2 separate regions of the Homo sapiens genome follow, and region 2 is linked to region 1. Evidence: fine-mapped expression QTL. A gene starts in region 1. The other region holds a variant in brackets. All regions are shown on one strand. Distances are between the middles of the regions. Region 1 holds the start of CBX6 (chromobox 6). Region 2 has its middle 21 kb from the start of APOBEC3A.

Region 1 (5,236 bases):
CTCATCACATCCCTCCTCTACTCAAAACTCCCTCACGCTTCCCACTGCCTGAGACAAAGTCCAAACCTACCCAGCATTCAAGGCCCTTCCCAAGTTCAGTCCAACCCATCTTTCCATTGCCATCCTTTGCCGTACTGCCCCAACCCATGCCATAGCAGACTTCTTTCCCATCCCCAAAACACACTCTCAGGCTCTGATGTGCTTGTTCAAGTTGACACCTCCACCCGGGACACCCTTCCCATTCTTCACTTGTAGGCCAATTCCCATTTGTCTTTCCGGCCCCAAATCAGAGGTCTCCACCTCTGAGAAGCCCTCACAGCCTCACCTCCACGTGGTAGGTTGCTCCCCTATGTCCACTCCCAAGACATCCTGTACAGACTCTTGTGGCAGGCTTATAATGCCTCCCCGAAAGATGTCCGTGTCCTAGCCCCTAGCCCCCAGAACCTGTGGATAGGATACCTTACTTACCATCCATGTTACCCTATGGTAAGAGGGTCTTTGCAAATCTGATTAAGTTGAGGTTGAGACGGAAAGATCATTCTCAATTATTTGGGCAGACCCAATGTAATCACAAGTGTTGTTAAAAGAAAGAGGCAGAAGCCAGGTGCGGTGGCTCACGCCTGTAATCCCAGTACTTTGGGAGGCTGAGGCGGGTGGATTACTTGAGGTCAGGAGTTCGAGACCAGCCTGGCTAACATGGTGAAACCCCCATCTCTACTAAATACAAAAATTAGCCGGGTGTGGTGACGCATGCCTGTAATCCCAGCTACTTGGGAGGCTGAGACTGGGAGAATTGTTTGAAACCGGGAGGCAGAGGTTGCAGTGAGCCGAGATTGTGCCACTGCACTCCCACCTGGGTGACTGAGCAAGACTCCATCTCAAAAACAAAAACAAAAGAAAGAAAGAAGCAGGAAGTGAGCAAAGGGATCGTGGAAACAGAGATTTGAGTGATGAAGCCATGAGCCAAGAAATGCCAGCAACATTTGGAAGCTGGATGAGGCACGGAACAGATACTCTCCTTGACCCTCCAAAAAGGGACCAGCCCTGAGGATACCTTCACTTGGGCCCAGTAACACTGATTTGGGACTTCCCGCCTCCAGAGTCATCAGATAACAAATGTGAGTCATTTTAAGCCACTGAGCTTGTGTTAATTTGTGAGAGCAGCAACACGAAACTCCTACACCTTTATTCTAGCATTAGTCACACTGTGTGACAGGTGCCGTTCTCACTCCACTGACAGCTCCTCAGCCTGGGGCACCTTTGTTTCCTGATGGTTTCACACAAAGCCTGGTGCTTCACAAGGGCTCACAAACACTGCTGAATGAATCAACAAGTGGACTCACCTGCTTCATCCCCCGCCTGTCTCCGTCAGCCTGAACACACACACACTGTCATACCCACTCCTCTCACCTGCTCACCCACCACCACCCACATCTCCCAGGAGGACATTTCTATTTTTACCACAGCAGCTCACCTTGGGCTGGCCAGCAAATAGCTGTTTCCCTGGAACATACTGATTTTAAGTGAGGAGAGGGATTTCTCTCAAGGTAATAATTGGACAAATCTGCTGGGAGAAAAAGACTAACATTTTGCTATGGTGGATTTGAAACCCAAGAATTGGCATTGTAGCACAGAAACGCAAAAATCTTTCCTAATGAGCCATTGATGTTCGCAAGACACAACCCTGACTCTTCACAATCCCCATTCCTCCCCACCCCATCTCAGCCCCAAGGTGGTCACTGGAAGGATGGTGAAATCTGTATTTAATGACACTGAAAGATGTCCACTTTATAGCATTAAGGGAGAAAAGCAGATTCCAGAACAGTGTGAATAGCGTGATCCCATTTTGTTAAAAAATTAAATCTACAGACAATGTGTATGTGTATGTATATACATACATACATAGGTGTACGTGAGTTTATGTACGCATAGAGCAGAGGCTGGAAGATTGGTGAAGATGTTAACAATGGTTTTATGGGGGTTATGGACAGTTGTTTTATCTGTATTTTTAAAATTGTTTTACAAAGAACAAGACTACTAACATAATGGGAAATAAAGTTCAAGTAATTTCAACATTTAAAAAGTGGAGCGTTTTGCGCGGCAGGGCTATTTTTTGTGTGTCCGTTCCTGGACAGCCCCAGCTCGATCCCCCGCCCCTCCTCAAGTGGGAAGCTGGGATCTGGGCTCCCCAGAGCAATGGCGGAAGCTTCGCGCAGCTGCGGGCGGGGAGAGGGACGCGGCCAGGTCGGGGGGCCGGGAGGGGTGCTGGGAATCGGAAAACACAGATATGACCGCGAAGGCGGTTTCTGCCGAATGACCAGATGATGACCCGCTGTGGGCCCAAGGCGGAGTGCGGGGAGCCCGTTCCTGCCCGCGGTCCCTCTCCCTCCCCCACTGCCACACCGGCCCCGCCGAATCCTCCCCGGTCTCCTGGGCGAGGACAGGTGCCGCCCGAGACCCCGGCCGCAGACAGATGCCCACGGTCACTCCGGCCTTCCTCGGCCCCATTCGCCGCACACCCCCTTCCTGCGGTGGCGTTTTTGTTTTAACTCTTCTGAACTGGTTACAAAACCACCCTCCCACGAATACATAAATAATGGGTGGGGGGCGATGTTTTAAAGAAATTCCCGCAAGGCCTGGCAAGGCAACAGCAACTGCATTTCTGCTGCATCATATTTAACTGTTTGCAGGCTGCTGCGGGAGATGCGCGGTGGCGGCGAGACTCGGGCTCCACAGCCCTTCTCCGCCCGGGGCCTGGCGAGACTCGCGTGGGGATTAAGAGGCAAGGAGAGGGTGTCAGCGATCGGGCGCCGGCAAGATGTGAGGGGGGGTGATAAGCGTAAGGCCGCAGCGTGCCCACAAGCCGGGCACCCATCGGGTCGGCCGGCAATTGCTCCCTCCGCCCGCGCGGCCCCTTTAAGAGCCAGCGCGCGCCCCCGCCCCGCGAGCGCCGACTTTCCCTAGCAACCGCCCCGGGGGAGGGGGAGGTCCTGGCAACCGCGCGCCAGCCGCGAGGATCACGTGACGGCCCGCAGCTGGAACGCGAGCGCGCGCCCCGCCGCGCTCCCGCCCGCCGGGGCCTGGGCGCTGCGGCGCGTGCGCGAGCGGTGCCGCACCGGCCGCGGGCGCAGGGAGTATTATGGGCTGTGGGTGCCGCTGAGCAAGATGGAGCTGTCTGCAGTGGGCGAGCGGGTCTTCGCGGCCGAATCCATCATCAAACGGCGGATCCGAAAGGTGAGCCGCCGCCCGGGGCGGGCCGCCGCTGTCCGCAGCCGGGGCCGGGGCCGGGGGCCCTCGGGGCGAAGCGGTCCCGCTAGCCCGGCTCCCTCGCCCAGCCCCGCGCCGCCGCCTCCTCGCGTCCCCGCATCCTCCCCACCCCCACCCCCGTTTTTCTCCCCTCTGTTTTTCAGGGACGCATCGAGTACCTGGTGAAATGGAAGGGGTGGGCGATCAAGTGAGTGTCGCGGGGTCCGGGGGCGTCGCGGGAGGGGAGGCAGCGGGCACCGGGGCCTGGGGTGGGGGTGCGCGCTCTTGCTCTCGCCGCGTGCCTGTCCCTCTCTGGTCTTCATCCTGATTTTGTGCGTTTGTGACTCGGCAGGTACAGCACTTGGGAGCCCGAGGAGAACATCCTGGACTCGCGGCTCATTGCAGCCTTCGAACAAAAGTGAGTTGTTGGGGAAGCTGGCAGGGGCTGCGAGGCCGAGGCTCGGCTGGGGCGCCGCGCGGGGAAGCGGGAGAGCCGGGGAGGGCAGCGCGGAGTGGGGCCCGGGAAGGGGCTCTTTTTAACCTCTGGTGTTTTTCGGCCGCAGGGAGAGGGAGCGTGAGCTGTATGGGCCCAAGAAGAGGGGACCCAAACCCAAAACTTTCCTCCTGAAGGTAACCTGGCCCAGCCCCAGCAGCATCCCCCTCTCGGGCCCCCAGCCCCGGCACAGCACGGGGCCTGGAAGGGAGGGACAGATACGCGGCCGCCCAAGCGGGCCGGCCTTTTCAGAGGGGCCCCAGCTGGGCAGGGGGTGGTTGTGAGCCCCCCCAGAAGCCCCTGATGGCAGGCCTCAGCCAGCATCAGCTTCAACAAGAGGGTTTTGGGACTGGGGATAATCCTCCCTGTTGAAACCAGGGGCTGGGGATGCCTTTAGGGCTCCAGGAAAGGGGGTGGCTGAGGCAGGTGGGGGATGCCCATGGGAAGGGGGCATTTGTTTGAGCTGTTATGACTGTGCTGGGAGTTGGAACCCAGGGGGAGAGTGAGTGGGGTCCCACCTCCTGGCAGGGCACAAGGAGAGGATTTGGGGGACCACCTGCCTCCCTGCCCCCAGCTTCCCCCGTTCAGTCTTTCAGGATTTGTTCTTCATGGCTCCCCTCCTTTCTTGGGGATCCAACTTGAATTTGACCTCAAATCATTTTACTTTGAATTTATCACCCAGGCTGGGCCACTAACTTTAGGGCTCTGAGCCTCAGTTTCCCCCCACTCCCGGCCATTTCTGGGGGATGGGGATGTGGGAGTGAGAGCATAGCATATTAGTCTCTGCTAGGGAGGGAAGAACTTCCAGAGGAAGCCATCTTGGAGGATTTGGGTTTTTATTTTATTTTGACAAGGAAAAACAGAGTCTGGGAAAGGAAGGGCAAGATGGCCCTAGGTGGCAGGCACGGCTGCAGGTGGGACTCAGTGGGCCCCCTGTCTTCCTGTAGTGCTACGGATGCCTCAGGGCCCCCTCCCACCCGACAGCCGGTGACTTTGTGGGAGGACTCTTTTTCGGAGAAGAGAAGCAGAAGTGAAAGAAATGTTGGTTTCCAGAATTTCATATTTTTATAACCCCCACCCTCAAGCGACGCACATCCTAGGGGATCCAGGGAGTAACCTTAACCCTGATGCTTCTCTTGGGGAGGGATGGGCGGAGCAGCTGGAAGGCTGGTGGGCTGTGTGACAGCCTCTCAGTGCAGCTGGGGCACCCTCTAGCGGCGAAGCGAGTATGACCATGAGCATTGATACACAGAACGCCTTTTTTTCTTGATAGTTCTTTTGGTTCCTGAGCTGGCTGTGGGCCTAATACAGGGCTGAGCCCCCACATGGATTATCTCCTTTAATTCTTTCAACAGTTCCAAGAAGTAAGGAGTATTATCCCCATTTCACAGATAAAAAATCAAGGCCCAGGAAGGGAAAGTGACTTACCCGAGGTCCAGCTTCCTGGCTTCATCCTGTCTCCTTTTCTTCATCTTGTGCCTTGAGTAGTCCATGTCA
Region 2 (5,236 bases), 64 kb before region 1:
GAGACTCCGTCTAAAAAAAAAAGAAACTAGGAATGCTATAAAGCTACCGTAATCAAAAGAGTAGTATATGCACCAGGAGCAGAAATAGAGATGAGGAAAATGCCACACACAAACAGAATCAAGGATATTTGGGAAGCTGGTATATGACCAAGGTGGAGCTGCAATTCAGGGGTGGAAAGATGGGCCTCGATTCAGCTGGTGTTGTCCAGTGGATGAGAAATGAATCCTCCTGGCATTCCCGTGGCACAGTGAGCACAGCTCCTCTCCTGCACAGCTGCTCCCGCAGTCACCCGTTCCCAGCCAATCCCCTCCCAGTCCTCAGCCCATGACCCTACCTCAGCCGTCACTGAGCACCAAAAAGCAGAAAAGATCACACTCACCTTCACTCCACCTCTAAAACCCTGCCTCCTTTGGTGTCTATATTCATTCATGCAACATTGTTTTTACTGAGCAGCTACTATGTGACAGGTGCTATTCTAGGAGCTGGATACAGACTCAAACAAAAACAGACACAATTCCTGACTCCGCGGCCTGCCATAGTCTGTGCCCTGTCAAAGCCCAGCCTTCTGTTCCTGCTCAGGGCTCGGCCTCTCCTTCAGTGGGTTTCCCTCTGTAGCTTTCCACACCATCGCCCCTACTGGAGGCTCCTTCCCATCAGCAAGCCACGTGGACTGCTATCTCCACCCTGTGGAGCCACATTTTCCTCCATTCTTGGCATCCCTTCATAGAAAAAAATTATATATGATTTATAGATATAAAATCTTTCTACATGTTCTGTCCCAGTTTCCTGCCTCCTGTTCACTTTCATCCCCCTGCAATCTGGCTCCTGTCCCCTCCCCAACGCTCCAAGAAAACTGCTCTTGGCCACACCACCAGCGACCTTCAGGTTGCCAGGAGAAAGAGATAGTTTTCAGTTCTCATCTTGCCCCTCCACCGGCAGCAGATGACCCGGCTGAACACACTTTCTTCCTGAGCCGCCTCCTCTCTCATTGTTGGTGACACCCCTGACCCGCGGCTTTCTCTCTTCTGCTCACTCAGTAGCTCCTCCTCTTCTCCAGGATCTGTAAACACCAGTACCAGACTTGGGGGTCCTCCCCACTTGTGTCTCCCACCTTCTCCCAGGAGACATCGGCCCGCCCCATGTGCACACCACTCACCTCTCCGGTCCTGGAGTTCGCCTCAGCCCGAGACTCGGACATCCACTTCCTACTGGGCATCCACTCTCGATATCTGATGGGCATCATAATTCACATTCCTGATTCCTTGTGGGTTCCCCCCCAAAAATGTATTTTTCCTCAGACTTCACCAACTTTACACAGGACACCAGCATTCACCCAGCGAGCAGTGAGCTTGAGCCCCAGCCCAAGGTGTTACCAGGATTCTTCTTTCTCCTGACACCCAGTTCATCACTGAGTCCTGCCAATGCCACCTCCAAACTTATCCCTACTCGCCTGCTAATCTCTGTCCCCACAGCCTGCACCATCACCTCTCACTGGGATGGTGGAGAACCTTCTGACTCTCAATCTTCTCCCTACAATCAGTGTCTACAGAGGTGCTGCAGTGAGACTTTCAATAGGACCAGGACATATCCCCACCTTGACTAGACTTCCCAGCCCCTCAATACATGCCTACACACACATGCACACACCCACACATGCGCCCACCCACGTGCGCACACACATGCACACTCACACACATGCACACACCCACACATGCGCCCACCCACATGCACACACATGCACACACCCACATACACACACTCACACACATGCACACACATGCACACACCCCCATGCACACACCTACGTGAACACAATGCACTCACATGGATACACACATGCATGCACACCAACGTACACATATGTATGCATACACTCACACGTGCACACACCCATGCACACATGTACCCACCCATGCACACACGTGCACCCACATGCACACACACCCACATGCACACGTGCGAACACCCATGCACACATGCACACCCACACACACACCCACACGCACACACCCACACACACACGCACACACCCATGGACACATTCATCACGACCTCACCTCTCAGTGGAACTGTGTCCTCTCTTCAACGGGGATAAAACCACTTCCCAGCATGATGGCTTCTACGGTTGAGTGGGAGACTCAGTCCAGGGCCTGACTTGGGGGAGTTCAATGTTCCTTCCCTTCCCTCCATAGGGCCAGGAAAGAAAGCCAGGTGGCCAATTCCCAGGCCAGCGTCTT[C/T]TCTCTTCCCACACCTTGTGAAGCCCACCTGACCCAGTTCACCCATGCCGTGGGAAGCCCTGGGCTGGGGCCCTGTGTGGTGCAGATAAGTCCAAGCTGGCCCCTGCCCTCTGGAAGCATCAGATGGACACCAGGCCTTCACTCACTCACCGGCCTGCGCCTTTCCACTGGGATTTGGTCCCTGCTGCCCAGACTGACCATACCTGAGCCTGAGCACTCCTTGTCACATGCTAGCCCCCTGCTTCTGGGAATGACAGAGCCTGGGAAGTAAAGGCCTCCTGGAGAGGGCTGGGACACCCTGACTTTGGGTGGTACAAGATGCGACACCCAGGGGAGTCTGGGGTGAGCTATGGGCAGGATCCTTTTCTGATTCTGCGTGTGTGCATGTGTGTGTTCGTACACACGCATGCACATGTGTGCGTGTGTGCCTGTACATGCATGTGTGCACACGTGTATGCATGTGGGTGTGTGCGAGCGTGTTCATGCACACGTACGTGCATGTGAGTGTGACCAAGCCACAGAAGCGGCAGGCCCAGCCATGTGGCAGCAGGGTCCGCTGTCTACAGATATACGCAGCTCCAGAGGCCAAAGAGAGCTTCCTGGGACAGAAAATGCAAACAAAACTGGTAATGGGAGCGGGAAGATGCAGAGGCCAGACTCAGAGACAGAGGCGAAGCGTGATGGACTCAAGGGCAGAGCTGAGACCCAGGTACTCCCGACCCCTGCAGCAGTGAGTCAGCGTCACCTTTTCTCTGCTTCCTGGGACCTCCAGGGTGGTGAACTCGGCTCCTTCCCCTAAAGGCTCCTCCTCTCCTCCTGGCCTCTTTCTAGGTCTTCTCTAGCCCAGCCCTGGCCACCTGCCCTTTCTCTGGGCTCCCTCCCTCCAGGAACTGGCTCTGCCCTTCACCCCAGCCAGGACACCTCTGCTGCAGCCCCCAAATCTGCTTCTCCAGCCTGACTCCGGGAGGCACACTAGCTTTTCAGCTCTGTAAGTTTCAGGAAACCCCTGGAATGTTCTTTTCAGAATGCTGATTCAGGTGGAACTGAAACTATGTCAAAATGGGTTTTAAACTACTTCAGCAAACTTTACAAAAATGTACAGAAAATGTCCCTATTTCAGATCTTATGACTCAAAAAGCAGGTACCTCAGCCAAGGTTATACTATTTCCTATGAGTACACTGTCAACTGTGAGAAGAGTGTTCTACTAACCCTTAAGTCCAGCTTACTGATTGTTCTTATTCTAACTGCCATCTAATTTAACAATGCTTAAAATATTATAACTGTCATTAAAGTGATGCATCCACAGAATCTCTGATAATGTAGAACATGAATAAAGTAGAACAAGTCTGAAGAAATTGTATCCACGACGTCGCTGAAAAAACTAAAAAGAAAGAATACTCAACTTCCATATTTTCAGGAGGATTCCATTCCTAGGGAACTAAAAGATGTCTCAAAATCTCTGATTATATCTTCCCTTTTAGATACGATCGTTGGCCATTTGGTTTCAGCATTTAAAACATGTCTTAAATGTTTTAAGGTGCGATGGCCAGGTGCGATGGGTCAGGCCTGTAATCCTAGCACTTTGGGAGGCCGAGGCGGGCGGATCACCTGAGGTCAGGAGTTCAAAACCAGTCTGGCCAACATGTTGAAATCTCGTCTCTCCTAAAAATACAAAAATTAGCCAGGCGTGGTGGTGCGCCCCTGTAATCCCAGCTACTTGGGAGGCTGAGGCAGGAGAATCGCTTGAACCCGGGAAGTGGAGTTTGCAGTGAGCCGAGAGTGCGCCACTGCACTCCAGCCTGGCAACAGAGCAAGACTCTGTCTCAAACAAACAAAAAACAAACAACAACAGCAACAACAACAAAAACATGGTTTCCTTCATCAGTGAAAATACACCTTTCCTCGGGCCTGGTGATGCCCAGATCTACCTGAATCGAACTATTTCATTCACATCTCCTTCATTTCCCTTGCTCCTACCTGCACTTTCCTTGCCCAACGCCCTTATCTTACAAGGTCACAAGGACAGAAGGCAGGAACAGTGAAGCGCTGGTGCACGCCCTGCTATAAAGGCAGAACCTGCAGTCTTGTTGGCAGGCTGCCCGCAGCCCTGGCATGGCCACACCTGACTTTGCCATGGCACGGTGCCCGGGAGCTGGGGATGATCACACCCCATGGTGCAAATGAGGGCTAGGCTGGGGCCTGGGGTACAGCCAGGGACATGGTGGCCAGGCTCCATCTGTCACATAATCGTGGTCAAACACCAAAGAGACCAAAGCTGAGGAACACTAGAATAGAGCAAAGTGTCAATTTTATAATCCGAATGAGAAACACATGATTGATAGAACAAACACAGGGTTAAAGCATACCGGGGAAATGTTCACAGCTGATGAATCTGGGTAAAGGGTATACGGATCCTCTTTCTATGCAATTTTCTGTCAATTTGAAATAAAATTCAAAGTTTAAACAAAAAATTCAAGTATTCACCATCTCTAGGTGGTAATAGGGATAATTTCCTTTTGCAACTTTTCTCTGCTTTTCAAATTGCCTGTGATGAGGGAGTGTTGTTTTTATCATCAGAAAACATTATTAAGGGCTGGGCATGGTGGCTCATGCCTGTAATCCCAGCACTTTGGGAGGCCAAGGTGGGCGGATCACCTCAGGTCAGGAGTTCAAGCCCAGCCTGGCCAACAAGGCGAAACCCCATCACTACTAAAAATACAAAAAAATTAGCCAGGCGTGGTGGTGGGCGCCTGTAATCCCAGCTACTCCGAAGGCTAAGGCAGGGAGAATCGCTTGAACCCAGGAGGCGGAGGTTGCAGTGAGCTGAGATCACGCCACTGTACTCAAGCCTGGGCGAAAAGAGCGAGACTCTGTCTCAAAAAAAAAAACAGAAAAAAGAAAAAAAGAAAAGGAAAAGAAAAGAAATGCTCTTGGGTGGTGTGGGGCAGGGGATGGGGCTCCCAACAAGGGTGGAGTTTGCATCAAAGCTGCTGGGGG

The links. PIP is the estimated chance that this variant, and not a neighbour inherited with it, causes the effect. A credible set is the group of variants that fine-mapping cannot tell apart.
Region 2: its variant is the best candidate, but not a certain one, in a credible set for the expression of CBX6 in lymphoblastoid cells (TwinsUK, PIP 0.72).

Annotation. Positions count from the first base shown.
Region 1 is chr22:38,870,120-38,875,355 of GRCh38, reverse strand. CBX6 (chromobox 6) reads left to right here and starts at 3,140. Exons shown (of 5, transcript NM_014292.5): 1 at 3,140-3,234; 2 at 3,411-3,454; 3 at 3,599-3,664; 4 at 3,810-3,876. The coding sequence starts at 3,166. RefSeq lists enhancers at 802-981, 798-1,997, 1,834-2,383, 2,384-2,934 and silencers at 2,929-3,188, 3,219-3,368, 3,469-3,518.
Region 2 is chr22:38,934,338-38,939,573 of GRCh38, reverse strand. No RefSeq gene overlaps it. Among named protein-coding and RNA genes, the nearest start is that of APOBEC3A, 21 kb to the left of the region's middle. RefSeq lists an enhancer at 2,430-3,251. The variant C/T (reference allele first, on the strand shown) is at 2,239.